Homo sapiens: one gene and its partners. The protein of the gene in region 3 interacts with the protein of the main gene of each other region in a biochemical or structural test. Each region holds a gene or a part of one and is shown on either strand. Other genes may lie near its edges.

Region 1 (6,352 bases), on a different chromosome or scaffold from region 3:
TCCGTCTTGGCAGGGAGAGGAATGAGAGAGCCGTGCACACCAGCCAGGGCGTTCGGGAGGAGCAGCACGCAAGTTAGAAAGTCCCCAGTGCCGCTGTCCGTATGAGCTTCTCTCCAGCTCATTTTCCCCATCTGTCCAGTGGGATCTCGCTGCGTGGGACCAATGCAAGGATAGGATGAGATGTGCATGTGAGCAAGCTTGTTAAATATTAACTAGTACTTTGTGCGTGGCCTTCCACAACAGTCCCCTCGTGTGCACAGGCAGGGTCTGAGCAGAGGGAGGGCTTTGTGGATTCCAAAGGCCACCAGGCCCTTGGCAGGCAACTGCAGCTCGCCACCTCCCTCACCGACCGGTCAGCTTTCCAACACCAACACTGAAGAGGTGTGGGAGTTCTGTGCCAGGAGCTCCCAGAGCAGCTTCAGGGAGAGTGTGGGGCCCCCTGGGACCTGGGGCATCTTTGCCCACCTTAGGAGTGCTTTGTCCATCTGGACAAGCTAGGCTTGGCTCACTGCCACCCCTCTTTGGTCCAGCTGTCCCGGGGCAGTGGTGCCCAGGCTGCCTGACATTGCAGGGGTGTGGACAGAGCCCTTGCCAGGGAATCCCTACCCCAGGATTCTGGTGTGGCCTCCGCCTGGGTGTGTCCTGGTTAATTCCTGTGCCTACTGAAGGCCTGCCCCAGCTGATCTCGCTCGCTCGCCTCCTAGACCATGCTGGCCACATTGGTTCTCATCCAGTCTTCTGGGGTGGGGACCCGTCCAAGGACAGGCTGGCTGCTCAGTCATTCTGCAGGGCCAAGCAGGGCCTGCAAGGACGATGGGCAGACACAGCCGCATCACCCAGGCAGGACAGCAGGCTCTGGCCCAGGAGATCTGGGGGTGAATCCTGGCTCTGCCAGCCATTAGCCAGAGTGGAAGTGGGCAAATGGATTAACGCCTCCAGCACCTGGTTTCTCACCGAGAACACAGAGAAGGTTATAATCTGGACCTGGTATAATCTGGACTCTGACTTACAAATCTGAATGCCAAGCAAAACCCATTCACTAGCGAAAACTGACTCAGGCTGAACGTATTTAGGGGCAAAACCTAAATTGTCGAGGCTAGTTAAAAGTCCTGATTTTTCTCTGTTACATTGAATAGTCACATGTTCCTCTGAGGAACAGGAGTGGGTTTAATTATGGGGTTCTGCCCTAGACCCGTGTGGGCATGCCATGATCCACACCATGCACCACGTGTGCCTTTGTCATCGAAATACCTGCAGTTCCCAAATACATCTGGCCTCACAGGGTTGTTGGGGCTTAAATGTGCAAATACGAGTAAAGAGGTGAGAGCGGAGCCTGACAGCGCACCTGCTGGGCAGGGTCTCCAACACTGCAGCATTTTGGGGGAAGCTCTCCTACTGGGTGGGGTCTTTGTACAGCAGCAGCATTTCAAGGTGGGCTGATCCTTCTCATCTGGGGAAGCCAGGGCTGGGCAGGTGCCTGAGCCTCATGAGGGTCTCAGTCTAGATGCTGGGCCCTATTCTCCCTGCTGCCTTGGGCTTGGAGATGCTCACAGGTGAGTTCTCATTTGTGAAGAGGTCTGTCTTCCTGAGGAAGCAGGGGACCCTCACCTGTGAACCAAGTGTGCCATGGGAGCTGCTCCATGTCCAGGTCCAGGTCTCCTGGTCTGCAGGGAACGGCACAAGAGGGCTGGCCTAGGCCAGGAGGATGTGATCTGTCCTAGAAGGGGGCTGACCTGCTTGCTGACCCCGCTTGCTGCTGCCTGGCTGGCCTGACTCAGCCACGGCTGTTCCGAGGGCCCTTCTGAGTACGAACTTCCAGTTGGAGGATCTGGGTGAAGACCCAGCTGCTTGAGATAGCAGCCTCTGGCTAGGCCCTTGGCGTGGCCAAGCCAATCAGGCAGGTTTAGAGCCTGGTGCCCCTAGACAGGTCCTGCAACCAAGAACAGGGGTAGCCTTCAAAGGCCAGCCCTGCCTTCCAACCACCGCTCCACAGCGAGGGAAACCAAGGCTCTTAGGGCAGGAGGCTTGTCCGAGATTAGCACCTGCGTGCTCCAGGCTCTGAGTTCTGTCCCCTCAGCTGTCCGGCCCCTGGGTGCTCACTTTAATCTCAAGTCATTCATCTTACTATTAAACGTGAGCCCAGAAATATTGTTGTAATGGAGAACGATGCCTGCGAGTCTCCAAAGCCTTCCCTCGGAACGGTTCCATTAAATCTCTCCTGCTCAGAACCACCCAATCCAATTCATGGAGCGCCACGTGGTCTACAGCACAGCTGGTTAGGGCCAGCGGAGGTTTATTTATAGCTGGGCTCCTGGCTGCCTGGTAACCGGCCATTGCCACCTTTAAAGAGTCTTGGGATATTATCTACCTCTATTCAGCTTGAAATCGGGCATGCAGTGCCTTGGGCTGGGGCTGGCGATAATTAAATTTCTATCATGCACAATTATGGATGCAAAGAATGAATGACATCCCACTGGCATGTGAGGATTCGGGCAGCTTCTGGACTGAAATACAGACTTCATAATTGCTCCATCCAGATTGGGACAAAGACTGTGGTTGGGAGAACATGCCTGAACAAAGAAAAATGACTCTGCAGGACCAAAGTTCTTGACACTGATTGATCTGCCAAAAGGGGAAGAATGAGTCCAGCTAGAATCCAGGACTAACCAGCGGGTGAGCTTCAAGGAACAAAGGGCTTCCGCTGGGTCAGCCCACGAGAGGGAGCTGCCTGCAGGTACCTGGGAGGGCACAGCCACCGTGTCTGTTCCTTGGGAGCAGGGCTCCTTGGAAGGCAGCGCCAGCTCCAGAAAGGCCACTGTTCCCCCTCCCACCCACCCCAGGTGGCAACTGCCCCTGCAGGTCACGGTCCCAGGGCCTCGCTCGGCCGGCCTAGAGAGAGAAAAGGGAAGATGCCCAATTAGCTGGACGCCCATGGCCCCAGGGCTGGGGGACCTTGGGTTATCCTGAAAGAAGGACAATGACCACCTGCAAAGGACGATTTCAAGTGGAGCCTGGAGGAGGCGGCAAATAGCTCAGTCCGCACTCAACTCCCTTCCCAGCCGTCTGGTGGAAGGTGAGGAGCAAAAGCTCATGCTGCTGAGGCCTGGGGCCACCCAGGCACCGGCCTCCCCGTGCTGAGCAGAGACAGCAGCCCCCTAGCTGCAGGAGTGTGCCCCGATGCGCACCTGCCGACTTTCCTTCTGATGCAGACATGGTCCCCACTGGGGCAAGGCTGCAGTTTTCTTTTAAAAAACAGATCTTTCAAAATAAAAGGGGCCTTGAAGAAAATCGTGGAATAAATAACAGTCTGGGGTGGAGGCGGTTCTGGCGAAAGTGTCCTGAGGGTGGTGTGTGATGGACGGGACTTTGGGCAGTGCTGATGGGGCCTTGCCTGTCACTTGAGGCCTCCAGGAGAGTCGAGGACTGGCAGATCCAGGTCCAGAGCAGGTGCAGGCTCCCAGCTCTTCCAGCCCCTTACCTCGCAGTAGGTTCCCACAGTTCTAGCCTCCTTGATGCCAGCCCCAGGGTGCCCACTGCTGGCCAACTATGTCCTTTTCCTCAAAACCAGGTCCCTCGGTGCCCAGGGTGAATGGGTATATGAGCCTGGGTGTGGGCACCCGGGGTCTGGGACACCGAGCAGACCTCTCTGGCTTGGAGATGTGTGCGGTGGGAAGAACAGGGTGACCTGAGCTCTCCCGGTGTCACATTCTCCACATCTGAGCCCTCTTTGGGTGAGGCCCTACTTCCAGCACACACAGCTGTCCCCATTCGTCTTCAGGAATAACTGACCCTTGAGGCCAGACAGTGGCTGTGAAGAGCAGGGGGACCGCCTGACCGTGACCCCCAAGGACAGACGCTGGCCCTCTTGACGGACGAGATGACCAGGGCCAAAGGCGGCAACATGGGGGCCCACGCTGACGGCAGCATCTCACACCTGGATGTGTTTCTGTGGTCCACAGGTCTGTAGGAGGTGGAACTGGTTAATTTAAAGTCAGGTTGGGGTTGTTGTTAGAAAGGGTTCCTGCTCCCACGAGAAACCAAGGATGAGTGGTGGCTGCACCCAGTCTCCATCCCCATGAGCACCCTGCGGGGTGTTGGGACCCCCAGGCCCGGGCCACACACCTCTCTCTTTCAGGGCCGTCTCTCCCTGTCTCTCCAGACCTGCTCTGGGTTCTTCCTTCTAGAGCTTCCCAGTGGGTTGCCGGAGCTGTCTGGGGTTATGTGGCTTGCCTAAGGCCACACCGATTGGGGCCTGGCACCAAAGTCCATTAGTATTTCTGTGACAGCAGCCATCTTTCTATGTAAGACGCTTATTTCATAAGAAATGCCAGCATCTCTTGGAGTCCTTCTGAGGAGGCAACTGCATACGAACATCGCCTCTGTCTCGTGCTGTGACCCGGGGAGAGACTGTGGGCAAAACCCAGTGGCGTCCGAGGGTCTGTGTGGCCCCGAACTCTTAGTGCTGACAGCAACATGAAATAATGAAGGCACAGGGCACTCTGTTCGTGCATGTTAACTTGTGTAACTAGTGCACGTTAATCACATTAACTAGCCATGTTAACTAGTGACGTAGATTAATAATGATGAATCAATAGGAATGAGTCCTGTATACTGACGGATATCCGGGCGATAGGATTCTTCAGCGAGGCCGGGGAAGAAGCAGACTGTCACCTTTGGTCTAAAGTTGGTGGGTTAAGTGGTGGGAGGTGCTCAGGGCAGGTGGCAGGAAGGGGAGAGCGTTCCAGATGGGGAGAACCTATTTGAAAGGCAGTGGACATCTTCCCATGTGCATAGAGAGGACGGGTGGCCACTGGGCGAGATTGCACTGGGGAATGGGGCTTGTGGACATCTTCCCGTGTGCATAGAGAGGACAGGTGGCTGCTGGGTGGGATTGTACTGGGGAATGGGGGGGCCCTATGGATATCTTCCAGTGTGCATAGAGAGAATGGGTGACTGCTGGGTGAGATTGCACTGGGGAATGGGGCCCGTGGACATCTTCCTGTGTGCATAGAGAGGACGGGTGACTGCTGGGTGGGATTGTACTGGGGAATGGGGGGGCGCTATGGATATCTTCCCATGTGCATAGAGAGAATGGGTGGCTGCTGGGTGAGATTGCACTGGGGAATGGGGCTTGTGGACATCTTCCCGTGTGCATAGAGAGGACGGGTAGCTGCTGGGTGGGATTGTACTGGGGAATGGGGGGGCCCTATGGATATCTTCCAGTGTGCATAGAGAGAATGGGTGGCTGCTGGGTGAGATTGCACTGGGGAATGGGGCCCGTGGACATCTTCCCGTGTGCATAGCGAGGACGGGTGGCTGCTGGGTGGGATTGTACTGGGGAATGGGGGGGCCCTATGGATATCTTCCAGTGTGCATAGAGAGAATGGGTGGCTGCTGGGTGGGATTGCACTGGGGAATGGGGCCCGTGGACATCTTCCTGTGTGCATAGCGAGGACGGGTGGCCATTAGAGCAGTGCAGACGGGACCTGTTTCCAGAAGAAGGACTGAACTGACCAGATTTGCATGATATGTTTTTATTGCACTGGGAATTGGGGCCTAGAGGCCCACTGGGGTTTGATTGTGCTGTTGGTTTCATGATGGCCTGGATTTCAGGGGAGGGGCAGGTGTAGAGGGAGATGGAGGGAAGGTGGTAGGTGGGAGAGGGCTTAGCAGGTGAGTCTCTGAGACTTGTCCACGGTGTGGGGTGACTTTGGGGTCTGTGCCAGGATGCCCCCGCCTCAGCCGGCTTCATGGGCATCAGAGGGATCAGCTCTCAGTGGGTCCCTCCCCAGGCTGGGGTTGGGCAGGCTCTGACTGACCCCTGTCCACTGGAGGCACGGGAGGCTGCATCTGGGAGGGCGTCTCCGTCAGTCCCGTCCCCAGGACCTGTGCCCACACGCCTGGGCTTCTCCCACCAATGAGGTGAGCTTTCCAAGCATCGTGAACTTTGGTCTATCTTCAAGAAAACCCAAAATTGCACCTTTTTTTCAAGGCCTGGCCTGTGTCCTGGCTCTGCCACCTGCTGGCCCCTTCCTGGGTGGGAGGGCAGGGGTGACCCGATCAGTGACAGGAGGGTGGGCGTCTGTACCTCCCACCCATCCCGATGAGCACCGAAGGCCTGAGACGCAGGGCAGCTTGTGTGTCGGTCTTTGCAAGGAGACTGTATCTGATTTTAGAGCAGAATTCCAAATGTCTTTCAGCAGAAGACCCACTTGGTAGACTGAGTGGTGGGCCCACGGTCCACAGGAAGCCGAGTCCTCAGTCGCTGTGAGATCTTCATGCCTTTAATTTCTAATTGTTTATTTGCTCCATGGGGAGGAGCTGGCCTCACAGCTGAGCACAGGGGCCAGGA
Region 2 (6,352 bases), on a different chromosome or scaffold from region 3:
CCACCTGCCTCAGCCTCCCAAAGTGCTAGGATTATAAAAGGTGTGAGCCACTGTGGCCAGGCCCCATTACTTATTTTTGTTGACAATGTCAAAGATCAGATAGTTGTAGGTGTGCAGCTTTATTTCTGGGTTCTCTATTCTGTTCAATTGGTCTATGTGTCTGTTTTTGTATCAGTGCCATGCTGTTTGGATCACTGTAGCCTTACAGTATAGTCTGAAGTCAGGTAATGTGATGCCACTTGGCTTTGTTGTTGTTGTTTTTTTTTTTTTTTTGCTTCTAATTGTTTTGGCTATTCAGGCTCTTTTTTGGTCCTATATGAATTTTAAAAGAGTTTTCTCTAATTCTGTGAAAAATGACATTGGTAGTTTGACAGGAGTAACATTGAATCTGTCAATTGCTTTGGGCAGTATGGCTATTTTAATGATATCAATTCTTTCAGTCCATAAGCATGAATTTTCAACAGTGTTTTGTATTTCTCCTTGCAGACATCTTTCACCTCCTTGGTTAGCTGTATTCCTAGGTACTTCATTTTTGTGTGTGTGGCTATTGTAAATGGGACTGTGCTCTTGATTTGGCTCTTAGCTAGAACATTTTTGGTGTATAGAAATGCTGATTTTTGAAAACTGATTTTGTACCCTGAAACTTTACTAAAGTCGTTTATCAGTTCTAGAAGCCTTTTGGCAGAGTCTTTAAGATTTCCTAGGCATAGAATCATATCATCAGTGAAGACAGAGTTTTACTCCTTTTTTTTCCTATTTGGAGGCCTTTATTTCTTTCTCTTGCCTGACTGCTCTGGCTACAACTTCCAATATTATGTTAAATAGGAATGGTGAGACCTTGTCTTGTTCCAATTCTCAAGGGAAATGGTTCGAGCTTCTGCCCATTCAATATGATGTTGGCTATGGATCTGCAAGACTATTTTCAGAATGACATTGTAAATCCATAACAGCAGTTCCAAAGAACTGAGGAACCTTTACACATTGCTTACACTATTAAGCATTTCAGGGGTATGTGTGATCTAAATTATTTTCCATTAATACTAACATCTTGGAGAGAAAGCCTTTTTCACTAAGCTAATGTTTGCACACATGGTGCAAAGGCAACAATGGGTAAAACTACCGGTAAGAAAGGCAATGGCAAAGTGAAACAGCCATCATCACATTCTACAGTGCTATGTGCTTGGAGAAAAAAAAAAAAAAAACAACAGAAGGCCAAGCACAGTGGCTCACACCTGTAATCCCAGTACTTTGGCGGGCCAAGGGTGCAGGATCGCTTGAGGCCAGGAGTTGGGAAACTAGCTTGGGTAACAAAGTGAAACCCTGTCACTACAAAAAAATATTTTAAAACTAGCTGGGCATGGTGGCACACACCTCTTAGTCCTAGCTACTTGGAGGGTGAAGTGGAAGGAGCCCTTGAGCCCGTAAGTTTGAGGCTGCAGTGAGCTAGTATCATGTCACTGCACTCCAGCCTGAGCAAGAGAGCAAGACTCTTACTCTAAAAAATAAAAATAAAAAAAAATAGACCCAATTTCACTTTGAAACATCCTTGGATGAAGCAGTAAAAATTAACTTTACTAAATCTCAACTCTTCAGTAGATACCTCTTTAATATTGTATATAACAAAATAGGAAACATACATGGAGCATTTTTGTTGCAGATCAAAGTCAGAGGATCAAGGAAAAGCACTGTAATTGAGTCGCTAAACTAGCCACTTTTTTCCATTTTTACTGAAAAGAATGGCAAAGCAATTGTGGTTATTCAGACTTGGGTATTTGTTAGATATTTTCTCAACAACAAACTAAACCACTAACAGTAAAGAAAACAATGGATAGCATTTGTTGCTAATGATAAAAATTAAAGCTCTCCAGCCAAAATTACAATTTTGAAAAATGTGTAACAACTATTCTGAGCTTGATAGCTTCCTGGTACAAGAATTTTCTAATAAGGTTGGTGAATTTAATGAGCATGTTATTTTGATATCTTAAATAATAAATCTGGAAACATTTGAAAGATCTGCATAACTCAGTGAACCAGTATTTTCCCAATGAACAATGAATGTCATTACAAAAATCATACGTGGGTAAAAGATCCATTCAGCATGCAGGATAAACCAGTAGACTCTAAAGAATATCCACCATGATCTGGAGAAAAGCTATTTTTAAAAAAATAATCACTATTCCAACCACCTCTCTTCACAAGACCAGATATTCTCCAAATACTCCCAAAAAAATAACATATCACAAAACAGATTAAATGCAGAAGATATGAGAATCCAGCTGTTTTCCATTAGGTCAGCCACTAAAGAGATTTGCAAAATTGGTACAGCAATGCCACTCTTCTCATTCAATTCTGTTGTTGTTTTGAAACTCGGTTTTCACTTAAATGTCAGTTGTGTTAACATTTAATGGGTTTACTGTTATTTGTTAATAAACAAGCTGGGCACGGTGGCTCATGCCCGTAATCCTAGCACTTCGCCAGGCCAAGGTGGGATGATTACTTGAGCTCAGGAGTTTGAGATCAGCCTGAGCAACATAGCAAGACCCTGTCTCTACAAAAAAAATCAAAAAATTAGCCAGGTGTGGTGGCACATGTCAGTGGTCCCAGTTACCTGGGAGGTTGACGTGGGAGGATTGCTTGATCCCAGGAGGGTCAAGAAAGCAGGGAGCCTTGTTCACGCCACTGCACTCCAGCCTGGGTGACAGAGTTAAGACCCTATCTCAAAAAAAAATTTTTTCAATAAAAAAAGTTAAGCATTTTTCAGTTTTAATGTTAACCCCACAAAAAACAAAATGCCTTGGGGAGTCCTCAAGTTTTAGGAATTTAAAGGTATCCTAAAACCAAAATGTTTTAGAACTGCTGTTTGTCGTTCTAAAGTAAACAGATCTTAAAACTAGAGGTAATATTTAATTCCTAACTGTTTCTATCTGTCCATAAAATTCACACATATGTTTTGTGGTTAAAAAGTCTTTAATATTTTATGGGATACGTATTCATTTCCAACAGGTCTCTTCATCTAGAGTATTCCATTTCAGAGAAACAAGTCATCATATCCCCTTTCAAAACTAGCATACCTTGAAAAGGGAAGATCAAAAGCTCAATGTTTACTTTTAAAAAGACACCCGTAAGTTGAATTAAAAATTTGTTAGTATGAGGTATTTTAGACATCTGTAATAAAAACATCTTCCCAAATGAAAAACTAACCATTTCAAGTGTGCTCTAACATCTTACAGGCAGCATTAAAAACAGTAGTAAAGAAGGTATTTTAATATTTATAAACTATGCTTGTTTTTGCTGTATAATATTTGAAATATACACATTTTATACTTGGAAAAAGGGATAATTTTTATGTGAAAAATATAATTCTAATTACGTGGTGAGAGAAATCTGTATATTATAGTAGTTCAAAAAATCCAAATCCATTTGTTTGTTATATCCTCAGCATGTCTTAAGCATATAATATGAAATATTTGCTAACTTCTATCTCCACTCTTTTTAGTGCACCTACATATTTTACCTGAAAGAGGATGTAAGAAACCAAAGGCATATAATTTGGTAGCTAAAAGACACAGCATCTTGGCACTCATATAAACATCAACGATCATCATGTTTAACATTCTCATCTGCAAGATGAGAATCTTATAGATAAGGAAAGTGAGGCCTAAGAGCATTAACTAACTTCTGTGGTCCCAAAGCTTGGTGTCTATCTGGACATATAAGAACCGAATTTCATTATCTATTGATAGCCTGGCTTTCTGAGATTTCATAATTCTTTTTTCTTTTCTTTTCTTTTTTTTTTTTTTTTTGAGACAGAGTCTTGCTCTGTTGCCCGGGCTAGAGTACAGTGGTGCAATCTCAGCTTACTGTAACCTCTGCCTCCCAGGTTCAAGCCATTCTCCTGCCTCAGCCTTCCAAGTAGCTGGGATTACAGGCGTGCGCCACCACACCTGGCTAATTTTTATATTTTTAGTAGAGAAGAGATTTCACCATGTTGGCCAGGCTGGTCTCAAACTCTTGACCTCAGGTGATCCACCTGCCTCGGCCTCCCAAAGTGCTGGGATTACAGGCATGAGCCACTGTGCCCAGCAGAGATTTCATAATTCTAATAACAATTTCCTATTGACTAAATAATGAACCTTTTCTCCAAGGCCCTTTGTAGAGTAAGGGAGGCAAGACTGATGTACAGAAATAATATATATATCAAAACATCATGTTGTATACCTTAAACATATACAATTTTTTTAAAAAGGTAAATTTTCAAAAGAAATATACAATAGGTTTTTCTAGCCAAGATTTATAGTCTTTACAAAGCTTTCAAGAAGCAAAAAACAAAATTTATCAAGAACTACATTTAAAATAAATCTCAGGCCGGGCTTGGTGGTTCACGCCTGTAATCCCAACGCTTTGGGAGGTCAGGGCAAGTGCATCACTTGAGGCCAGGAGTTTGAGACCAGCCCAGCCAACATGGCAAAACCCCGTCTCTACTAAAAATACAAAAATTAGCCGAGCGTGGTGATGCACACCTGTAATCCCAGCTACTCAGGAAGCTGAGGCAGGAGAATCATTTGAACCCAGGAGGCAGAGGTTGCAGTCAGCCTAGATCACGCCACTGCACTCCAGCTTGGGCAACAGAGCGAGACTCTGTCTCAAAACATAAATTAAATAAATAAATAAATTAAATAAATCCCATTTAAAAATATGCATTTCCCAATTACAACATGTTATATGGATTCCTCCAGAATTTGCAGGATTTTATAGCACTACTTACCAAAAGTTGTTCCACCAGCTTCTTCACATTTTGCCCCATTTCTGGGGACTGTGATCCACTACATGCTAGTTTTATTAACATTGCAAGGAAGTTCTTGCATTTCTTCACATTTTCTAGCATTGTCTAAATATGAAAATGTAAATATAAGCAAACACAAGTGTTAGTGAGCAAACAATTCAAAAGAACTTGCAAGGAACAAGATTTATGTAAGGTGCAAGTAAGAGCTTACCGGAGAAAGATTAATCTGAACAGCTGCTGAGTTCTCTGCTTTAAGATTGGGCTCATTTGAAGGAGTGGATGATGCTCCCAAACTTGAAGGCTTCAGGGTAGTTACAGTATTCAATGGCTTTCCAGGAGTAACTGTGACGACACTGGTTGGCACAGCCACAGACTGAAATTAAAGGTATTAAATATTTAGGCATGTATTACTATGATACATTAGTGGGTGCCTCATTTCACACTCATCAGACAAGTTAATTTTGACATCTGTGGTTTTATGTTATGCTCTAGTAGTCTAAGGCAATATAATACAGTTCTAGGAACTCTTGAGTCTAGCAGATCTGGGTTTCATTCTCACCCCATCTACTATTTCATTACCACCTACCAAGTGTTGACTGCAGGCAAGTTACTTAATCTTGCTAATCCTGATTACTCTCTGCAAAAATAGGGATTGCAACGGTACCTGCTGTCCTAGGATTTTTTGTGAAAAACAGTGCTAAAGCAAATAAGTCCTCAAAAAATATTATTAATACTCCAAGAAGTATCTGAAAGTCTTTATGAGAACATAGAATATTCTGCTTTTTCTTAAGAACAAAGCAGAGCAATCTACTTATTATCTAAAATTTAGATAAACTGCTTTTATGTAGACCATTAAAGTAAGCATGAAGAATATTATAAAACGTGGTATCTTATATTCACACTGAAAAGAATTTCAGTTGTTTCTCTACCTTCTATCAAAATGAGGTGTGACTCTAGCTAGCATCACCTACAGGACAAAAACCTCATACAAGCAATCACAAGTCAGGCAGTAATTTAGAAAATCACATTGAGATAAAGCAACAATCTTAAAGACAAACACTAAAAGTTACAGAACATAATAAAAGTTTGGGGATCAGGGATAAGGAATAGTATTTACATACAATTCACACAGAAAACTGAACAATGCACCATCATTTAATTTAAATGTCTATGTTCTACAAGCATGCAACACAAAAAGGTCAAGTTGCAATCACCTTCAAGAAAATTTCCTTCTATAATAGTCAAGATAGGTGAATTTGAATGTACAATAAAATCTCCCACATTAGAGAGACTGGAATATGTACTAGACAAGAATGTTCTGAGGGTAAAAAATGGGAAGAAGGACAAGTGCAGTGGCTCACACTTACAATACCAGCACTTTGGAAGGCTGAGCCAGGAGGATTGCTTGAGGACAGGAGTTCGAGACCAGTCTGGGTAACCTAACAAGACCCTGTCTCTAGAAAAAAATTTTCTTTACAAACAGGAAGAACATTTAAAATGCTGAGAATTGATAGAAGGAGAGGAGTGGGGACACATGGTGGCCCTAACATGGGTTTGGGGTATATGGGC
Region 3 (6,352 bases):
GAAGCATGGAAAAGATTACTTTTCAGTTTAAGAAGAAGAGAAGAGTGCCTGCTATCACCACTTCTAATCAATACTGTTCCCGAAGGCTTAGCCAATGAGCCACAAAAAACTGCCGTTCTTCATATAAGATGTGAAAGTCTACACAGAAGATACAAAAGAATCTACAGATACATTATGAGGACTAACAAAAGACATTAGGACGGTGGCTGGTTCAAGGATGAATATTAAAAGCGCTACATATTTCCATCCTACCAATAAACTGGAAAAGGTAATAAAAACATGTTACTTCAAGAAGCACTGAAACTATGAAGAATTTAGGGGGAGGAAACGGGCAAGAGACCTCAATAAGCACTTCTATACAAAACACAAATATCAAATAAATATACAAAAAGAGGCTAAAACTCCTAAGTGAGGAAATGCAAACTAAAACCAAAATGAAATAATACTATTTTCTACCTACCAGACCAGCAAAAATCAGGAAGCCTGACACTATCAGGTATTGATAAGGGGGTATGGACATCTGCACAATTATGTATTGAATGGCAGAAGTGATTTGGCATTTTATTATAAAGTTGCAGATGTGCATGACTTAGGAGCCAGAAGTTCAATGTTCGGTATAAAATTTAGAGAACCTCTTGCATTTGTGTCCCCAGAAGACATACACTACAATATTTTATAACTGTTTGTAACAGTAAACAACAAGAAACAATCCTTATGTCCACTGGATTAGAAAAATTGACAAATAAAATTATGGTATATTCAGCAATGAAAATAATTATAGCTATATGCAACAACTTGGATAAACCTCAGGAATATCATTTTAAGGGGAAAAAACCAACTTGCAGAAGAATACGTAATTACTTCATTTACGTTGTAAACATGCAAAACTAAACAATATGCTATTTAGGAATATAAATATATATGGTAAAATATAAAAGCAATTAATAATCAACACAAATGTATGAGCAAAGGTACTTTGATGGCCTAGGAATGATGGGATTAGGGAGAGGCATCTAAGGCACTTTAAATAATGGAATTTTATTTTAACTAGATGGTGGGCACCAGGATGATTTTTATCTTGAAACATTTCTATTCATTTGTGTCTATTCAATATTCAATAATAAACTATGTTTTCTTCAGAAAAAAAATTACTTAGATAATTTAGAAGAACTTTGTACTAAGAAACAAAAAGACTGCATTTTAGGCTAACGAAGGCAATTAACAGTGAAAATTGTGGTGGGACAAATAGTTTTTGGAGCCTAGTAACTAAGCTGAAATAGTGAGGAAAACAAAGGCATATTTATATGCTTCTAGAAGAACACAGACATTAAGGGTACATAGGTTTTTAAGGAAGTGGTATAGAACATGGACCAAAAGGTTTTAAATATTTAATAAATTTGTGACATTTGGTTCTTGAGTTTGCTCTCTCCCCAAATGTTGCCACGCTTTTTAAATTACTGAAGCAAAAGATTAACCACATCTATTTATCTACCAATGTCTTATGTTTAAGCCACATTATAAATGCGTAAGCCAGAGTTAGAATTACCTGTACTCTTTACTACACATATTAATACAATTTAATTTGTTATACATTTTTTATTACCAGCTATATGAAAGTTATATTTTATGAAGATAAATATAGCCAGAATATAAAAACCTTACTAAAGTTAAAACAATCTAACTTTATCTTTAAAATCTTATGTTGTACAGCACCTAACAGTCTCTGAAAAAAACAGGATATAATTTATCAGTGTTGTACCAACTAAAAAAGGAAATAATCAAGTAGATTATTTTAAGTATGTTACTAGAAACTTACTTCTTCCACCTGCCCATCTTCAGCTCCATCTTTCTCTTTGTCTTCCTCCTCATCATCATCATAGTCTTCTTCTTCATCTTCATCTTCTTCAGATGATGTATCCCCAGTTCCATCAACTTGTAAGACCAATGGAGCTTGTGTTTGAGCAGGCTGGGCCTGCGGTTGCTGCTGGCCAGTTGCAGTTATCTGTGCTTGGGCTGGTGTAGGTGCTGCCACTGTCGTAGGTATAACTTGAGTCTTATTTCCTGTAAATAAGATTTGCTGAGGCTGGATGATGACACCTGTCTGTGGTGAAATCCCTCCAGGAAGAGGAGCCAGCACCTAAAGCAAAAGAAAACCACATAACAGTAACTAGTTAAGAGGATCAAGTATGGTACACAGAAATAGAAACAAATGCTTAAGATTCACCAGAATGGCCATATTTCATACACAGTTAAAAACTACCAAAGTACAAAAGCAATTAGTTTAACTAGTGTAGTGACCCATTAAATTTCTATTTTATCAAATTTCTAGAAAATAAGGATTTTCTAAAGATAACTGCTTCATTTATTGAGCACATACTATGTATATGCCAGCTACCAGGACAAAAGTTATACACTGCCTTCACATGAAGAACACTGGACTGAGAATCTGAAAACCTGGGTCTACCTTTTTTTTTTTTTTTTATAGATGGAGTCTCGTTCTGTCACCCAGGCTGGAGTGCAATGGTGTGATCTCGGCTCACTGCAACCCCTGCCTCCTGGGTTCAAGCAATTCTCCCACCTCAGCCTCCTGAGTAGCTGGGACTACAGGTGCGCGCCACCATGCCCGGCTAATTTTGTTATTTTTAGCAGAGACGGGGTTTTGCCATGTTGGTCAGGCTGGTCTCGAACTCACGACCTCATGATCCGCCCGCCTCCCAAAGTGCTGGGATTACAGGCGTGAGCCACAACGCCTGGCCAACCTGGGTCTACTTTTGTCTAAAGTCAGACATAAATACAGCAGACGCAAGTCATTTAACTCCTCTTGGCCTCTGTCGTTTCACTGTCAAACTAGGCTTAATGGTTCTCAATCCTGGCTGCAAATATGAACCACCTGGCAACTTAAAAAGTACTGATACCTTGGCCATACCCCTAATATTCTGACTCAGTGTGAGATAAAAGCTAATTATTTTTCTAAAAACCACCAGATCAGATTTCTGAAGTTCCTTTCCAGGTTCTGCATCTAGGATTCTAAAGTAAGCCACAACTTGAAAAAATATATACTAACAAATATTAACTATATGTATTATAATAAAGGAGGAGGACTAGATGCTTGTTACTTGCCATTAGGTTCAAGGAATGCAAAAATAAGACACAGTATTTCCTTTAAAATGCTTACACGTGGTGTAACAACACAAAAGACAAAAAAATGGTATAATAGACAAAGCACTAACAACTCAAAAACACAGCAGATGTAGTACAAATATGACACAGTGTTATGGGAACACAAGAGAGTGTACCAAATTCAACTTAGGGGACAAAGCATGATCAAATATTACTTATATTATTAGTAAGTAGTTTCTGTTTGTGCTTAAAGGCAGCGGTCCCCAACCCCTGTTAGAAACTGGGCTGCACAGCAGGAGGTGAGTGGTGGATGAGCCAGCATCACCACCTGAACTCTGCTTCCTGTCAGATCAGCAGCAGCATGAGATTCTCATAGGAGCAGGAACCCTACTGTGAACTGCACATGCAAGGATGGAGGTTGTGCACTCCTTATGCCTGATGACCTGAATTAAAAGTTTCACCCCGAAACCATCCCTGCTGCCCAGTACATGGAAAAATTGTCTTCTGCAAAAACCAGTCCCTGGTGTCAAAAAGCTAAGAGACTGCTGCTTTAAGGAGATTAGCCAGGTTTTTCTATTTGTTTGGGGGAAGTGCAGGGAGTTGCCAGACGGCATTCTTAAGAGAAGTGTAACATCAAGTGAAACCCAGAAGTGACAGCAGTACATAATTTTGGAAAGATGTAAATAAACTGGATTAATAGTACTGCTCTGATCTTGTCTCTATCATAATACTATTTTACTGACATTTAAAAAAGAGACAGACACATAAACATATAAAGTACATAAGTTCCTCAAGAAAATAACCATTCCTCTTTCATTTTAGTGCCACAGCACAAGAATATAACACAAGTAGATCCAAGTGTTTATTTTGATGTAAATGCAGCTAAAGAAAATAACTGGGAGCATGGCAAGAAATAAACCTGGAGAGTTCAAAGAAACAAGATCCACAAAAAGATTTTATAAACCATGTTGAGTTGTTTAGGCTCTTCTCAGTAGGCAATGAAAAGCTGTTAAAAGTTTTAGGATTTTTAGAAAGATAGGCCAGGCACAGTGGCTCACGCCCATAATCCCAGCACTTTGGGAGGCAAAAGCGGGCAGATCACCTGAAGTCAGGAGTTCAAGTCCAACCTAGACATGGTGAAACTCTGTCTCTATTAAAAATACAAAAATTAGCTGGGCACAGTGGTGCGTGCCACTAATCCCAGCTACTCAGGAGGCTGAGGCAGGAGAATCACTTGAACCCAGGAGGCGGGAGTTGCAGTGAGCTGAGATTGCGCCATTGCACTCCACCCTAGGTGACAGAGACTCTGTCTCAAAAAAAAAAAAAAAAAAAGATGACTATAAATCAGCCAGGTTAGGAGGGCAAAAGATGAGAGGCAGAGAAACCATTAAGAAGACAATGCAGCATTTTAGTGACAAATCATGGACAGTATGAACTAAGGAAATGAAAAAAGAGGCTGAGAAAAAAACAGTGTCAAACATATTAAGGGACTGCAACCATGGCAAAACTGCAGTTAAAGAAAAAAAAAAGGCCGGGCGCAGTGGCTCACACCTGTAATCCCAGCACTTTGGGAGGCCGAGGCGGGTGGATCACAAGGTAAGGAGATAGAAACCATCCTAGCTAACACGGTGAAACCCCATCTCTACTAAAAATACAAAAGTTAGCCAAGTGTGGTGGTGGGCGCCTGTAGTCCCAGCTACTTGGGAGGCTGAGGCAGGAGAATGGCATGAACCCAGCAAGCAGAGGTTGCAGTGAGCTGAGATCGCGCCACTGCACTCCAGCCTGGGTGAAAGAGCAAGACTCTGTCTCGAAAAAAAAAAAAAAAAGAAAAGAAAAACTATTAACAAGAATTGGTAGGGCTTGATACCTTGGGTATTAGAGGTAAGGAAAAGGGAGGATTCTACACACCCACTTCCAGTAAGCATCATAAAACTAGAGTCATGTCTGTGTCATTCACTCCTAAATCCCCTGACCCTTGTGAATACCCCGAGACTCAGTAACTGCTTATTGAATAAAGGCTGAATGACCAGCTTAGGAAGCTGGAAGGAGAGTGCTGCCACCTTCGAGGGGATGATGAAGGATGGGCAGAGACAACAGTAATTGTTTAATACATGTTTAATACATGCTGAATCTAAGTTAAGCTGTATACAGGAGAAATTTGAAACAACTGGGTCTGTAGCACTGAAAAAGAGTCTTTTGTGCATATAAGGAGAGGGAAACTACCCAGGGAATACATACAGAATAAAACAGAACCCCATACTGATCATAATAGAAGATTATTTTACCTGCTGTATAACAGGAGCTTGTACTCCACCAGGCTGCATTTGTGGTATAACCTGTTGTTGTAGAACCACTGACTGCTGAGGCTGAAAGATATATTGGGCACCATTGGCTGCTCTGACCACCTGAAGAAGCTGGCCTAAAGCAAAAAGCATGCATTCCGAGTTATCATTTTAGCAGTGACCATCTCAAAAGAAATGAATTCATATTTAATTTCATACCACCAAAGGCACAAGAAATTATCAAGAAAACTAACAATTTTATTAAAGGTTGTCATTCATACACAGTATGCATAATCCTCCCCTTCTCTGACTTCTCGCCATGTTCAAATACATTCCTTAAAATGTTTTATTTTTCATATTTACATCCTCATTCAGCTATTTCCAACAAGGTTTTAACAACAGATTATGAGACTTGACTAAAGCTTACATTATCTTTGCTAACCTTAGGAGTGAAGAAAGAGCAGTAAGATCAGACACTTCGGGAGCTGTTCATTTTTAAAGCTTTAAAGGAACAAAAGCTTAATAGCTCATTTAATATCTTGAACCAAACAAAGCACCAAAGAACTTTGCTTCAAAATTGGTAAAAGCAATAAAAGTTCACAGAACCAGTTATCATCATTGTCATACAATTCACACAGAATCAAATTCCCCCAATATGTTCCTTTAGACAACCCAGAATCTTGAATTGATTAAAAAGCAAATTACATCTTATTAAAATATGTAGCAAGACAAGCCCCTAATTTCACAAATTTACAAATTAACAAAAATAACATACACAGAATAGAAAATAAATAATAACTATATAATCAAGATTATAGGGAACACTTAAAATCCATGTAAATAAATTTTTCAAGCACCAATATGCCAAAACACATGAGCTAGACATTGGTCTTTTGTCAATGAAGAGATACTATGTATAATAATAGCATACAATAAATTTGCTCTTAATA
Region 4 (6,352 bases), on a different chromosome or scaffold from region 3:
TTTCTTTGTTCTTCTAAACACCAAGCCCCTTTTTTCTTCACACACCTGCTGTGGTTCCTCCTTGATGACTCCTGTTTTCCCTAAGAGAATTCGACTCTTCTTCAGAGATGATTCCTTCTTACTCTCCTTGGAGGGGGAGTTAGAGGTGGCCTCTTCCTTCTCATCAGGAATTTCTGAGAATAAAACAAAAATCACTTGAGTTGCTCTCCCTGAAGATTCACCTTTCCTACAGACAAGTATCCAGTTTTCTTCTTTAAGGTGACGGATGTTCCAGTGAAGGTCTTAACTAGACCTTTCATCCCACCCCCCCCCAGGTAACTTCTAGTCCACGATTTACTAACTGAACTACACCTGTATCTTTTCATCCCATCCCAAATCACTTCTAGTACATGATTCACTAAGTGAACTACACGCTTGACATCTCAAAGGTACTACTTTCCGACAGTCCTACATGAGTTTTCCCTAGGGAATACACAAATAATAAAAACTAACTGCCACAATTTTGCTCTCTCAAACTGCTACCTAGAAGTTTCGAGTCCATGATTCACTAACGGAACAAACTATGCTCTTGACATCTCAAAGTTGCAACTTTCCAACATTCCTACGTGAGTGTTCCCTAAGCATATACACAAATAATATAAACTAACAGCCAAAACTTCGCTCTCTCAAGCCGCTACCTACAGGTTTCTAGTCCTAATCATCTCCAACCCTTCTGATTTCCTCCTGCCCGTTGACATTAACAGCAAGTTTTCAAAGGAGAAGAAACACTGGCCTCTGCCAGTAATATACCCAAAATGAGGTTCTCATCATTGGGATCAAGTGTCAAAACAGGAGGTTCCAACAGCCGGGGCATGGCCTGAGCATCCCAAATGATATTGTCCTCCCAGCGTCCATATACCAGATCCTCATTGTCAATGGGAAAAATGGAGTACCAAGGTTTGTCATCATCAAGAGTGGCTGCAAAACCTAGTCAAAGTGCAAGGAGGAAATAGTAACAGAGAAAACATTTATGCCCCTTTCAATCAAGATTCTGGCAAAGATAAAAAGAGTTACTCATGTTAGTAGAGCGAGTTAGTGGAGTTATTCATGTGTCCACTGAAAAGGAACCTACACAGTGTATTTCTCACTTTAAAATAATGTTGCAGGCTCAGCACGGTGGCTCACACCTGTAATCACAGCATTTTGGGAGGCCGAGGCAGGTGGATCACTTCAGGTCAGGAGTTCAAGACCAACCTGACCAACATTGAGAAGCCCCATCTTTACAAAAAATACAAAAATTAGCTGGGTGTGGTGGCACATGCCTGTAATCCCAGCTACTCAGGAGGCTGAGGCAGGAGAATCACCTGAGCCCAGGAGGCAGAGATTGCAGTGAGCTGAGATCGTGCCATTGCACTCCAACCTGGGCAACAAGAGTGAAATTCTGTCTCAAAAAATAAATAAATAAAAATAATGTTGCAGTCAAAAATGTCCACTGCAATACTGTTTATAATAGTTGAAATTTAAATAGCCTAAATGTTTAAGAAGGAATTGGTTAAATTATGACAATAAATGATATGGTAAAGTATGCTAACAATAAATGGTAATAAATTGTATTAACAAATGCAACATGTTATCGGTAAATTATGAAACATTCGTAATAGTAATATATAACCCATAAAGTGGGCAGAATGGAAGGGAAAAAACCTATTTCTTAGGTTTTAAAAATCAGACATTTTTGTATCCGGGTGTGGTGGCTCACGCCTGTAATCCCAGCATTTTGGGAGACCAAGGCAGGCAGATCACTTGAGGTCAGGAGTTCAAGACCAGCCTGGCCAACCTGGTGAAACCCCGTCTCTACTAAAAATACAAAAATTAGCTGGGCACAGCGGTGCACGCCTATAATCCCAGCTACTCGGGAGGCTGAAGCACAAGAATCACTTCAACCTGGGAGGCAGATGTTGCAGTGAGCCAAGATCGCGCCAACACATTCCACCCTGGGCGACAGAGACTCTTGTCTCAAAAAAGAAAAAATTTTGTTTTTCCTCCAAAATATAAAAGTAATCCAGCTTTCTATGTTTATATAGTCTGCTTTTTTTCATTTACACTAATAGGATATCATATATGTTGTTTCATATCTTCTTTATTTCCATTTAAAATGAGTTTCTCAAGCCAGACGTGGTGGCATGCCCCTGAAGTCTTGGCTACTCGGGAGGCTGAGGCAGGAGGATCACCTGAGCCCAGGAGTCCAGCCTGACCAACAATAGCAAGACTCTACCTCTACAAAAAATAATAATTTAATTAAAATAAAATGAACGAGTTTCCCATGTCATTAAACATTTTTATAAAGAACTCTAAATGACACAAAAATATTTATGTGGCTGGGTGGGGTGGCTCTTGCTTGTAATCTCAGCACTTTGGGAGACCGAGGCAGGAAGATCACTTGAGTCTAGGAGTTTGAAACCAGTCTGGGCAACAAAGTGAGGCCCTGTCTCAACAATGAAAAATAAAAAATGAAAGAGAGAAAAATATTTAGTAAGTGAAAAGCACAGTATGCAAAACTGTACATACGGAAATGAGCTCAACTACATACACACACAGAACACTGAAAATACACCAAAACTTAACAGTTGATAATCTCCAGATAGATTACCAGTGACTTTAACACTATACTGTATTTTCAAAGTTTTTTACATTAATCATGGCATACCTTAAAAAAAAAAACCTATTTAAGGAGAAAAATAGGAAACTAGAATTCTAAATACAAAGGGACTTGGGAACAAAAATATACTATAAAGTACTGTTATAGTTCAGAAAGATCTTTAACTTCAGGCCAGGCGTGGTGGCTCATGCCTGTAATCCCAGCACTTTGGGAGGCTGAGGCAGGTAGATCACCTAAGGTCGGGAGTTCGAGACCAGCCTGACCAACATGGAGAAACCCCATCGCTACTAAAAATACAAAATTAGATGGGCATGGTGGCGCATGCCTGTAATCCCAGCTACCCGGGAGGCTGAGGCAGGAGAATCGCCTGAGCCCAGGAGGGAGAGATTGCAGTGAGCTGAGATTGCGCCACTACACTCCGGCCCAGGCAACAGAGCAAGCAAGACTCCGTCTCAAAAAAAAAAAAAAAAAAAAGATCTTTATCACATGTTTTTAAGAAACCTGAGTCTGGCCTAGCTTCTTAACAGGGCAAAAAATTACATGGACTATCTTCCTCCAGGTTGAGCATAAAAATAAAATAAAAATTACAGGGACTAGAATTAGGCCTCAGATCCTAAAAATTTCACTATCTCTTGGCAGCTCAGAACATCACAGCCAGCCGGGCGTGGTGGCTCACACCTGTAATCCCAGCACTTTGGGAGGCTGAGGCGGGTGATCACCTGAGGTCGGGAGTTCGAGACCTGCCTGACCAACATGGAGAAACCCCATCTCTACTAAAAATACAAAAATTAGTCAGACATCGTGGTGCACGCCTGTAATCCTAGCCACTCCAGAGGCTGAGGCAGAAGAACCGCTTGAACTGGGGAGGCGGAGGTTGCAGTGAGCCGAGACTGCACCATTGCACTCCATCCTGGGCAACAAGAGCGAAACTCTGTCTCACCGAAAAAAAAAAAAAAAAAAAAAAATCACAGCTGAGCCCACTTATGGTGACTAAGATTAAGGGCAGTATCTGCTAGACACAGCTGGCACAGAAGCACACCTTGCTGAACATTGTAAGCCATCGCATTCCTAGTCATGCTAGAAGGAAGCCAGCCTGCCAGGCTTGCACGCTGAGGTTTTGTCCCTTTGTGTTTGACATCCTCCCCATCCCAGATGATATCATCCTCCCAATGCAGCTGTGTCACCATCAGGAAGTTTTCATCAGCCAGAAGATCAGTGCCATTGTTTTCCTCAAGTTTCCTAAATTCCTGTGTAAGTAGGGAAGAAAAAACACATCCTTGATTGGTCACTGGTCAAGGTTTCCACTCCAAATTCCACATTAAAGATACATCAGACACATTGTAAGTGGTCCTTTACTTGAAACAACCACCTGATAACGGAGGAATATTTGCCTCTTCCCACTCCTAGTCTGGCACAGCATTCATTTCACAAACAGAATCCTTAGAATAGGACCTAGCTACCAGGGTGATACACCATACCAAATAAAAGGCTGAGACACCTCAATCTCCCACCAAAGAAACCCTACCACCCAGTATCTCCCCAATTAAAGAGTAAAGTTAGTAAAAGTAATAGGACCTGAGTACATTGATTCCTTTCTTACATACCAGTGTTGCTCACCTCTATCATTCTAGATTTTATCACAGGTTCATGTTCTGTCTTTCTCAGTTTGAAGCCATAGTCAAACCCACTGCCATCTTCAGGGACACCCAGCATATCATACCACAGTCGGGCAGGCCCATAACGCCACTCAGCCACTCTTGGTTTGGTATCTGTCACTTTATCTATATCTCCAGTTGATTGGGAAAATTTGGACTCCACAGGAGCCATCATCGTGATCTGTAACAGAAGAAAGAAGTAGAGCAGGGAGAATTTCCTGATCCCAGATGTCCTAAGGCTATAGAGAGTTAACAGTCAGGAGGGGAACTTAGAGAAACTGAGGATGATTTACCTGGAGTTAGAATGTAAACAATGGAGATGTATCATAGCACATTCCACCTATCAATCAAACCTTCTTATTCAGCAGCATATCACCATCTACCCCTCTCATCCCCGCCTACCCCACCAAACATTTTTCTTTTACAATAGGGAAGGGGCAGCCACTGAGATTGAACCCATGATTACTCATTGAAAATTAGCACAGATTCTATCTGCTATGGTATTATTTACAATTTAGACATAAATTAGGGAGAACTCATTGAATTCATTTGTTCCTCTCATAGGCCTTAATCTCAGGTCTCTATTTTGCCTACTTCATCATCAGAGAGACACTGCTCTGGAGGTGGTGGTGGAGCGTAGTCGTAGTTCCACAAAGACTTCTGGCTGACTTCTGATTCTACTGAGCACTCCACCTCCTGGATCTGCTCTTCCTGTATCAGCTCACGGTGCTTCTTCTTCCTCTTTCTCCGAGCACTCCGCCAAACAGATGGGACATTCTTCCCTGGTCCAAAAAGACGTAGAAAACGTAACACCTAGAACACAGAATACATTACTATGACACAGACTCAAAGTCAGATGGGAAAACAGCAGCATCTGGGCCTGAAAACTCCCTTGAGAGATCTCTTCAAATGTGGGGGAGAAACAAAGGAGTGTCGCATTCAGACTTGTAACGTCTAAGAAAGTAAAGAAGCGTTCCTTAATAATTTGGGCTAGTTCTTTTAAGATAACAGAGAAATTTCCAATGAGAACAGCATAAATCACATTTACTATCAATACATACAACTTTAAAAAAAAGACCTAATACAGTGTGAAGAGCTCTTATGTAGCCAATAATATGTCACTGAGTAAGGAAACCCCATTCCATACTCAGCATCTTAACAACAAAACTCATTATTTGGAAGAGGTCAGTGGTTTGCAATCTGAGCATTCTCCACAGAATGTACCTTTCCAGGTCGAAATTCTGGAAAAAGTTCTGTGACACTTGGCAACAGCTTGGTGGCATCATGCTGCATAATCCCAGCCAATGGAAGGGTCAGCTTTCCATCTTCAGATTCTGCCTGTGTTGCTTCCTGAGGTCCCATCTCAGATTCTGAGTCAGAGGAACTACTGAAGTCCACTTTCTCTGAGGCCAAAGAGGAAGGGGCAATGATGGAGGGCAAGATGATGCCTTCTCCATTTTCAGACACTGCAACAAGGAAGAGAAACCCCTTTGGCATGTAACTGTGAACATATTTCCTCGAATTCCGCAAACACCCACTTTAGGCTATACACATGGCTCAATGCCAGGAGATATAGGCCCAAGCACCCAAATCATAATACTAGTATGCAACCCAGAAAACTCATTCTAACTCGTTATCTCCCATCGTCCCCCAACTCACCACGTACCTGGTACCCTAGGGTTGTGATGAGAAAACAAACACTATTACTACATTTACTACTTTCCGATTTTTTGTTGTTTTTTTTTTTTTGAGACAGAGTCTTGCTCTGTCGCACAGGCTGGAGTGCAGTGGTGAGATCTTAGCTCACTGAAACCTCTCTCTCTCGGGTTCAAGTGATTCTCCTGCCTCAACCTCCTGAGTAGCTGGGATTACAGTCATGCGCCACGACAGCTGGCTAAATTTTTGCATTTTTAGTAGAGACGGGGTTTCACCATCTTGGCCAGTCTGGTCTTGAACTCCTGACCTCAAATCATCTGCCTCCACCTCCCAAAGTGCTCGGATTACAGGTGTGAGCCACCACACCTGGCCCTACTTTCTGATAAGTAACCAATATTGTAAC
Region 5 (6,352 bases), on a different chromosome or scaffold from region 3:
ACTGCAACAGAGGGAGGCATCAGGCCAGAGTTGGTTGTCAGTGGGGCTGCAGGAATTGTGCTTGGCTGTGATCCTTTCATAACCTGAATTATTGAGGATGAATTGATAAAGACAGGTGTAATGAACTGAGGCCGGGCATTAGACTGAGCAGCTGACTGTCCCTCAGAAACCATAACCTTGCTACCCGCATTGGGCATTGTGACAACTGTTGACATCAATGCAGACTGCAAGTGAGTTGGCAAAGCTGCTGATGTGTTAGCTGAAGTTGTGATGGGATTGGAAGTGACAAATACAGTTATTTGATTTGGGGGCAAGGGAGTGGAAATGGAGGAAGAGCTAACAGGTCTTGACATTACTGGAGGGATGCTTGGTGCAACGTTAGAACTGACCTCACTCAATTCGGGATGCACAAGGGATGAACACAGCTCATTACTGTGAGGTAAGTTTAGGGAATTAGAAGGTTCTTTAGAAGAAGACAGATCCTGCAGTGTGGGAATGACAGATGCTTTTTTGAGGTCCTCCCCAGAAACTACTGGAGGTGTTACTTCCAGATCTGTAAGCCCAGGGGGTTTAATTGTCACATTGGGAGCTCCAGAGTTGTCAAGAAGTTGACTTAACGATGTTGGTGCTTCCCTCATAGCAGGAGACACCAAATTTTTGTTCTCTTCGACACTGGGAAGTTTGTTAGGATCCGAAGGCTGCCCATCCTTTTTGGACTGATCTTCAGGGACAACCATTTTAACTTCTTGGGCAGGGACTGCTTTTAGTTCAATGTTTACCTGTTCCTTCCTACTCTGGGAATTCTGGCAATCACTGTCCTGAGGCACATTCAAGCTCTCCTTGTTATCCTCAACAACACCCCCAACTGCAGCCACAGACACAGTAGAATTCTGAGGATTCAGCCCACTGTTGTTAGGAAAGCTCCCAGGTACAGGGGGATTGGCCAGAGGAGTGGGACTGACCAATACATTTCTCGGCAACTCCACATTCTGCAATAGGGCTGCATTTGTCTGAGAGGCCAGAGTAAGTTTAGGGGCTTTTGAATTTTGCCTCCCAGGGCTTGGAGTGGTTTTCCTACTGGACCCAGGACTAGACCTGCGACTGTTGCTTGGACTTGCCCGTTTTGTTGCTCCAGAATTAGACTGCTTTCCAGAATTCACTACCACAGAATCTAATTTGTGAGTTTGTGGGGTAGCAAAATTGGAAGGATTCATGGTAAGATTTGAAGGTGCTTGCCCGATGGCCTTCAAAGTTGTTGGATTTAGGCCTTGTTGATCAAAGCCCCTGTTTAAATTTGGCCTAGGAGGTAAAGGAATATTAATCTGTGGAGGGAAGAGTCCTGCTATGGAGGCATTGAGTCTTTCTGGTGACAGACTGATTTCTGAAGGTTCTGTGCTGGGAGGGCGGTTGTTGGGTGTCTGAGGATAATAGGGTCTGGGGCTGGCTCTGTTTGGTGTTTTGGGCCTAGATGTCTGGGTTGGCGCAGCCACATTTGGGAAGTGGTGGCCGTGAGAGCTGGGCAGGGAATTTACAGGGGGTTGCTGGGGAGTTGCACCTTGAGTTGCTGAAAGGGGCGATGGTCCAGGTTTTGGCCCTGTCATCATTAACTGATTCTGGGGAAGTACTACATGTGAAGGCATGTTGTTTGGGCCTCCTGGGACAGATGGTGCTTCACTGCCACTTGCTTCAGGGAGTGAGGCCATCTCCGCCAGTGGCGAGCTGGAAGGATTCTGCGGGCTCTCCTGATAGACCATTTTCCTTGAATTGCTTCCCAAGGGAGTATTCACAGGCATTGGCATTCTTTGTTTATCAGGTGATGGTGGCACGGAGGCAGGTCCTTGCAGACTGACCATGACAGGCACACTGCCACTCTGTTGCATGGGCATTCTCTGGGAGTCGGGGTTCAGGGGGCCCCTTGGAGGATGGACATTTTGAGAGACTGGAAGCCTAACTGATTTGGGATCCTGCTGCATCATGAGCATCATCATCATTTGTTGCTGCTGCTGCTGCTGCTGCTGAGACTGTGGCTGACTGGGAGGTGGTGGCTGCTGCTGCTGAGGCAGTTGTGGCTGTGGCTGCTGCTGTGGTGGCTGTGGTGGGGGTGCCACATGCTGCATGAGTTGAGGAGGCATCTGCTGAAGTGGCCTCTGTTCAACTGGTTGAGAAGGATAACCTAAAACAAGCCCCCCAAATTAGGGAAGTTAGATTTTTCAGCAAGAAAATGTTGCTACCTTTAGAGTATAGCCAAGCAATACTCATCTAGGTGGCACAGACTATGCACAAACAGCTCAGGCATGCCCACTCCTGGGGCAGGGGGCAGCCCCTCATTACTTGACATAAGCAAAAGGGGCACAGTGCTTAAGGAAGCAAAAAGCAAAGCATCAAAAAACCTGGAGCTCCTCGGTGTGTAGGATCTGAATGAGCCATGACTGTACTAAGAGCCTGATTTTCTGTGCTATGCACTGAAAATGGCTGTGTCTATACCAGCCAAACATTCAGATGAAATGAGAAAAACTCCATCAACATCAAGTGCCTGGCCACCCAAGATTCAGGTCTCATGTAGTCATAATCAATATTTCAATGTACTTGTGAATGAAGTAAAGCATTTAGGATTCACTTCTTCTGTTAGCACAGGAATAATTTTTTTAAGATGTGGTTTTGTTGAAAATAACAGCACTGAAGACAGCCTTTTTATTCTTTCAACAGAAGTAAAATATAAAATTCTAGGATTCAGTTCCTTAAGAAAGAGGAATTTAAAATTATTCCAATTCATTGGCTCCATACACTACGCCGCATCCTTCAGGCTTAATCCTTTGGGGGAAACCGACTGAATTAAAATTGCCCTTCAGGTGTAAATCAGTTTAATAAACAGTAGGAGCTAATGGAAGCTGATATACACATTGAAAATAAAATTAGGGCATTGAAGTTTTTATGGATATTAATTTGCACTTACTTTCTTACATGCAAATCTCTATTTGGAGAAATATTTTCCATGAATCCACAGCTGGAGAATAAGTAAGGCAGAAGCATAGCCCTCAGGAATAAAAAATAATTTTGGGAAAAGAACTCTGAAGGACAATGTCTTCTAGATATGCAGAGGGCAACATCTCAAATTATTCTCTTTTTTTGTGAAGATTTTACTTGGCATTTTAGAACCAAAACCTTACAATCAGAAAAGATAAAAAGATACGCAAACCAAGAATAACGGTGGTTCTGTGGGAAAAAGTGGGCATACAGCTGGGCATATATGGGATACAATTCCAGTTCCACAAACTAGATTTATTCCATTGTTGCATGAAGAGTACATTAGGGAGGTTTTAAGAAGGTGTAGGAATAAGAACAACTGGCTCTGGCAGTCAAAAGAAATGCTGACTCAACATTTTCATAGAGCAGCTACCAAATTTTGTGGGTCAGACTCAGCACTCAATTAATGTCTTCTGGCCAAAGATTTCCATGGTATCAATGAATACAATGTGTAGAATCCAGTTTTGAAGATTTTTAAAAAAATCCTTTTTTATTTTAGGCCCGAGTAACTTCTTCACCTTTATAAAGCCAATAACATGGCATTTCTATGGTTCAACTGTCCTTTCGACTACATAGTCAAATACAGTGGGTTCCTATTTTTCACATTCAGTCTGGGGTTCCCACATTAAGAAATTTGTAATTGCTACAAAAGCCTGTTGATGTCAGGGTTATGACATGGATGCCTTTTATCTTTAAAATCAGCCCACCAGACAGTAAATACCAAAGAGGACAGCATAGACAATATAGCAGCCTCTCAAAAGTAACAGTTAAGGGCATGGCTGCTACAGAGTCCAGAAGCTGGAGGCAGCAGTCCAAAAGGCACTAATGATAAGACAGATTGGGGCTGACGTGACAGAATGGTGAAGAGGGAAAGCCAGGACACACATAGTGCCCATAACACAATCACAAACTGAATTTATTACTCAGGGAATGCAAACTCCTATGCCTTTAGGGGCCAGGCAGGTAGTAGAGAATAGAAGTGGACTGGTATAAGACAGCAGGAGTCCTGTCAACAGTGCCAAACTGCAGAGCAGATGCCCTATTTAAAGGCATTTAAACTCGGACTTTTGTTTAAGACACTGCATAGCAACTCAAAACCATTATAGGCCAAATTCAGCCTGCAGGCCCCCAGTTTGCAGAAAGAAGGCAATAAATGTATACAAAGACCCCTGGGATTCTTATAAGAAGAGTTCAGATGTGTCTGAGGCAAGCAGGCATGTTCCTGCTCTCAATGCCTTCTGGACATACTCCCCAAAGACTGATGACCTCCCAGTCTCAGCTATGCTGCTGCATCTCACTGACGGGAAGTGTGATATGCCCAAATAATTTGTAATAAATAACACAAAGTATTGATATCATGATGGATTTAGCTTTTTGTTTGGATTCAATTTTAAAATACATAAATTAGGGGTAGATTAAAGGTTACTCCTAAAATAATGTCGCTCTCATTTTCATGCCAAAAAGAAGTTGAAATAACTAGTGAGGAAGAAACAAAACATACCCTCTGTACACACAGGGGAGAGTGGCCTAAGTGTGAAGGGTTGTGTATCTTCAACCGTGTCATAGGGGAATAAAGTTACAAGTCATTGCTCAGGCCAAGATAACCAGGTATAGAGATATTGTGGCAGCTGGCCTTGGTTCTATAATATCTAGGTTTGAATGAATTAATTTTAGGAGCTTTTCCATCTTTGACATAATTTTTCAACATTTAAAGGATAGTATTATTTTATAATCAGAGAGGATACAACAAAGGGGGCTTCCAATATTGGTCCTATTTATTATAAATTATTAACCTATGTGGTAGATACATGGGTGTCTCTTTTATTCTTTATATCTTCTTTATATTTTAAAGACTCATTAATGAAACTTCTATAAAAAAGATCATCTTGTTTTAAACCCTGGTAGTTCCCTGCTTTGAGAAGCCCCAGGAAGAAACGCTGCAGGAAAGGCAGGCAAGCAGGATTAGAGTGAAATCATCTCTCCATTTAATCTTATCCTGTTCTGATGCCAACTAGAATCTTGACATTGACAAGAATAAAGAGGCACTTCACATTTCATGGTTTTTTTTTTTTTTTTTGAGACAGGGTCCCAGGCTGGAGTGCAGTGGCATGATCATGGCTCACTGCAACTTCGACTTCCTGGGCTCAGGTGATGCTCCCACCTCAGCCTCCTGAGTAGCTGGGACTATAGGTGCGTGTCACCACACCTGGCTAATTTTTAAAAAATTTTTAGTAGAGACAAGGTTTCACCATGTTGCCCAGGCTGGTCTTGAACACTTGCGCTCAAGCGATCTGCTCATCTTGGCCTCCCAAAGTGCTGTGATTACAGGTGGATGAGCCATCATGCCCAACCACATTTCAGTCCGATTTTATGAGGACTTAAAATAACAAAGACAAATTTGAATAGAATGTGTGTGTGTATGTGCCTTCAAAAGTTATATTTGAAATTTTTACTTAATATCAAGGCAAAGCTTCCAAATACCAGACACATTAAATCACTGAAGTAGACTAGTTAGCAGATAAAATAAAATACTATTGTTTCCTTGAAGACATGGAAGCCTTGTAATGCCACATGCACATGTAATAAGTATATAATCTAGCTAACATTTTATCACCTGGTGGCCGGTTTGAAAATTCTGGCAGTTTAGGGCCTGAGTTATCCAAGTTAATTCCTTGTTCTCCAGGCAACGGTGGCTGATCAGCCTCTTCCAGACCAGCTGGGCGAGTATCTGGGGTGCTAAAAAAAAAAAAAAAAAAAAAAGTGACATATTTTAGAATAAGTTGTATAGAAAATACACAAAACTAGCTTAACCCTTCCCCTATTTCTGAAGAACTAAAATGTTTGCATTACCATTATTCATCTCTCTCTAGTCTAGATAAAATATTAAATATTGGCATAAAAATAATCTGGCAATTTCATTAAATGTTAAAATCCATTTAATCTAACAGCACTGTATTTACTCAGAATGCTTTCCACAAATTCCTGGTGCAATAATTTTCATGTAATCACCCATTCCTTAGCTGTTTTAAGACCTGATCATAGGACTATCAATGTTACAAGGTACTGTTCCTGTGAAACCACACTATCTTCAATGTAGCGATCAAATTCAACTAGGGGGTCTGATTGTTTCTTTTTTGTGGATATAACAGTGGGGGCTCAATTCATAACACCTTGCAAAAGGTTGTATAGGTTGGCTGATGGTATTCAGAGAACAAAGAAAGATTGAGACCACCACCACAAAGATTTTGCTGCAGAATGAGAATTTGCAGACATCTCTATTTGCTTTGAGATGCCTTTGCTTTTACCTGGGTGTAGCTTAAAATTTTTA

Evidence for each region.
Region 1: of the proteins of GTF2A1 (region 3) and FAM20C, one has a biochemical effect on the other in vitro, tested with the Homo sapiens proteins (one large-scale study listed by IntAct).
Region 2: the proteins of GTF2A1 (region 3) and TAF4B form a complex in vitro, tested with the Homo sapiens proteins (one study listed by BioGRID).
Region 4: of the proteins of GTF2A1 (region 3) and TAF1, one has a biochemical effect on the other in vitro, tested with the Homo sapiens proteins (one study listed by BioGRID).
Region 5: the proteins of GTF2A1 (region 3) and NCOA6 form a complex in vitro, tested with the Homo sapiens proteins (one study listed by BioGRID).

Annotation. Positions count from the first base shown.
Region 1 is NC_000007.14:197,396-203,747, forward strand, and holds part of FAM20C (extracellular serine/threonine protein kinase FAM20C precursor), read left to right. Parts: coding exon of another isoform or gene 1-105; exon of another isoform or gene 106-3,288; intron 3,289-6,352. UniProt on the Homo sapiens protein: Golgi serine/threonine protein kinase that phosphorylates secretory pathway proteins within Ser-x-Glu/pSer motifs and plays a key role in biomineralization of bones and teeth.
Region 2 is NC_000018.10:26,273,467-26,279,818, reverse strand, and holds part of TAF4B (transcription initiation factor TFIID subunit 4B), read right to left. Parts: intron 5,157-6,352; coding exon 4,995-5,156; intron 4,889-4,994; coding exon 4,766-4,888; intron 1-4,765. UniProt on the Homo sapiens protein: Cell type-specific subunit of the general transcription factor TFIID that may function as a gene-selective coactivator in certain cells.
Region 3 is NC_000014.9:81,190,703-81,197,054, forward strand, and holds part of GTF2A1 (transcription initiation factor IIA subunit 1), read right to left. Parts: intron 5,540-6,352; coding exon 5,406-5,539; intron 2,138-5,405; coding exon 1,817-2,137; intron 1-1,816. UniProt on the Homo sapiens protein: TFIIA is a component of the transcription machinery of RNA polymerase II and plays an important role in transcriptional activation. TFIIA in a complex with TBP mediates transcriptional activity.
Region 4 is NC_000023.11:71,376,357-71,382,708, reverse strand, and holds part of TAF1 (transcription initiation factor TFIID subunit 1), read right to left. Parts: intron 5,760-6,352; coding exon 5,518-5,759; intron 5,107-5,517; coding exon 4,888-5,106; intron 4,475-4,887; coding exon 4,256-4,474; intron 3,886-4,255; coding exon 3,678-3,885; intron 967-3,677; coding exon 790-966; intron 174-789; coding exon 46-173; intron 1-45. UniProt on the Homo sapiens protein: The TFIID basal transcription factor complex plays a major role in the initiation of RNA polymerase II (Pol II)-dependent transcription.
Region 5 is NC_000020.11:34,741,169-34,747,520, forward strand, and holds part of NCOA6 (nuclear receptor coactivator 6), read right to left. Parts: intron 5,761-6,352; coding exon 5,639-5,760; intron 2,174-5,638; coding exon 1-2,173. UniProt on the Homo sapiens protein: Nuclear receptor coactivator that directly binds nuclear receptors and stimulates the transcriptional activities in a hormone-dependent fashion. Coactivates expression in an agonist- and AF2-dependent manner.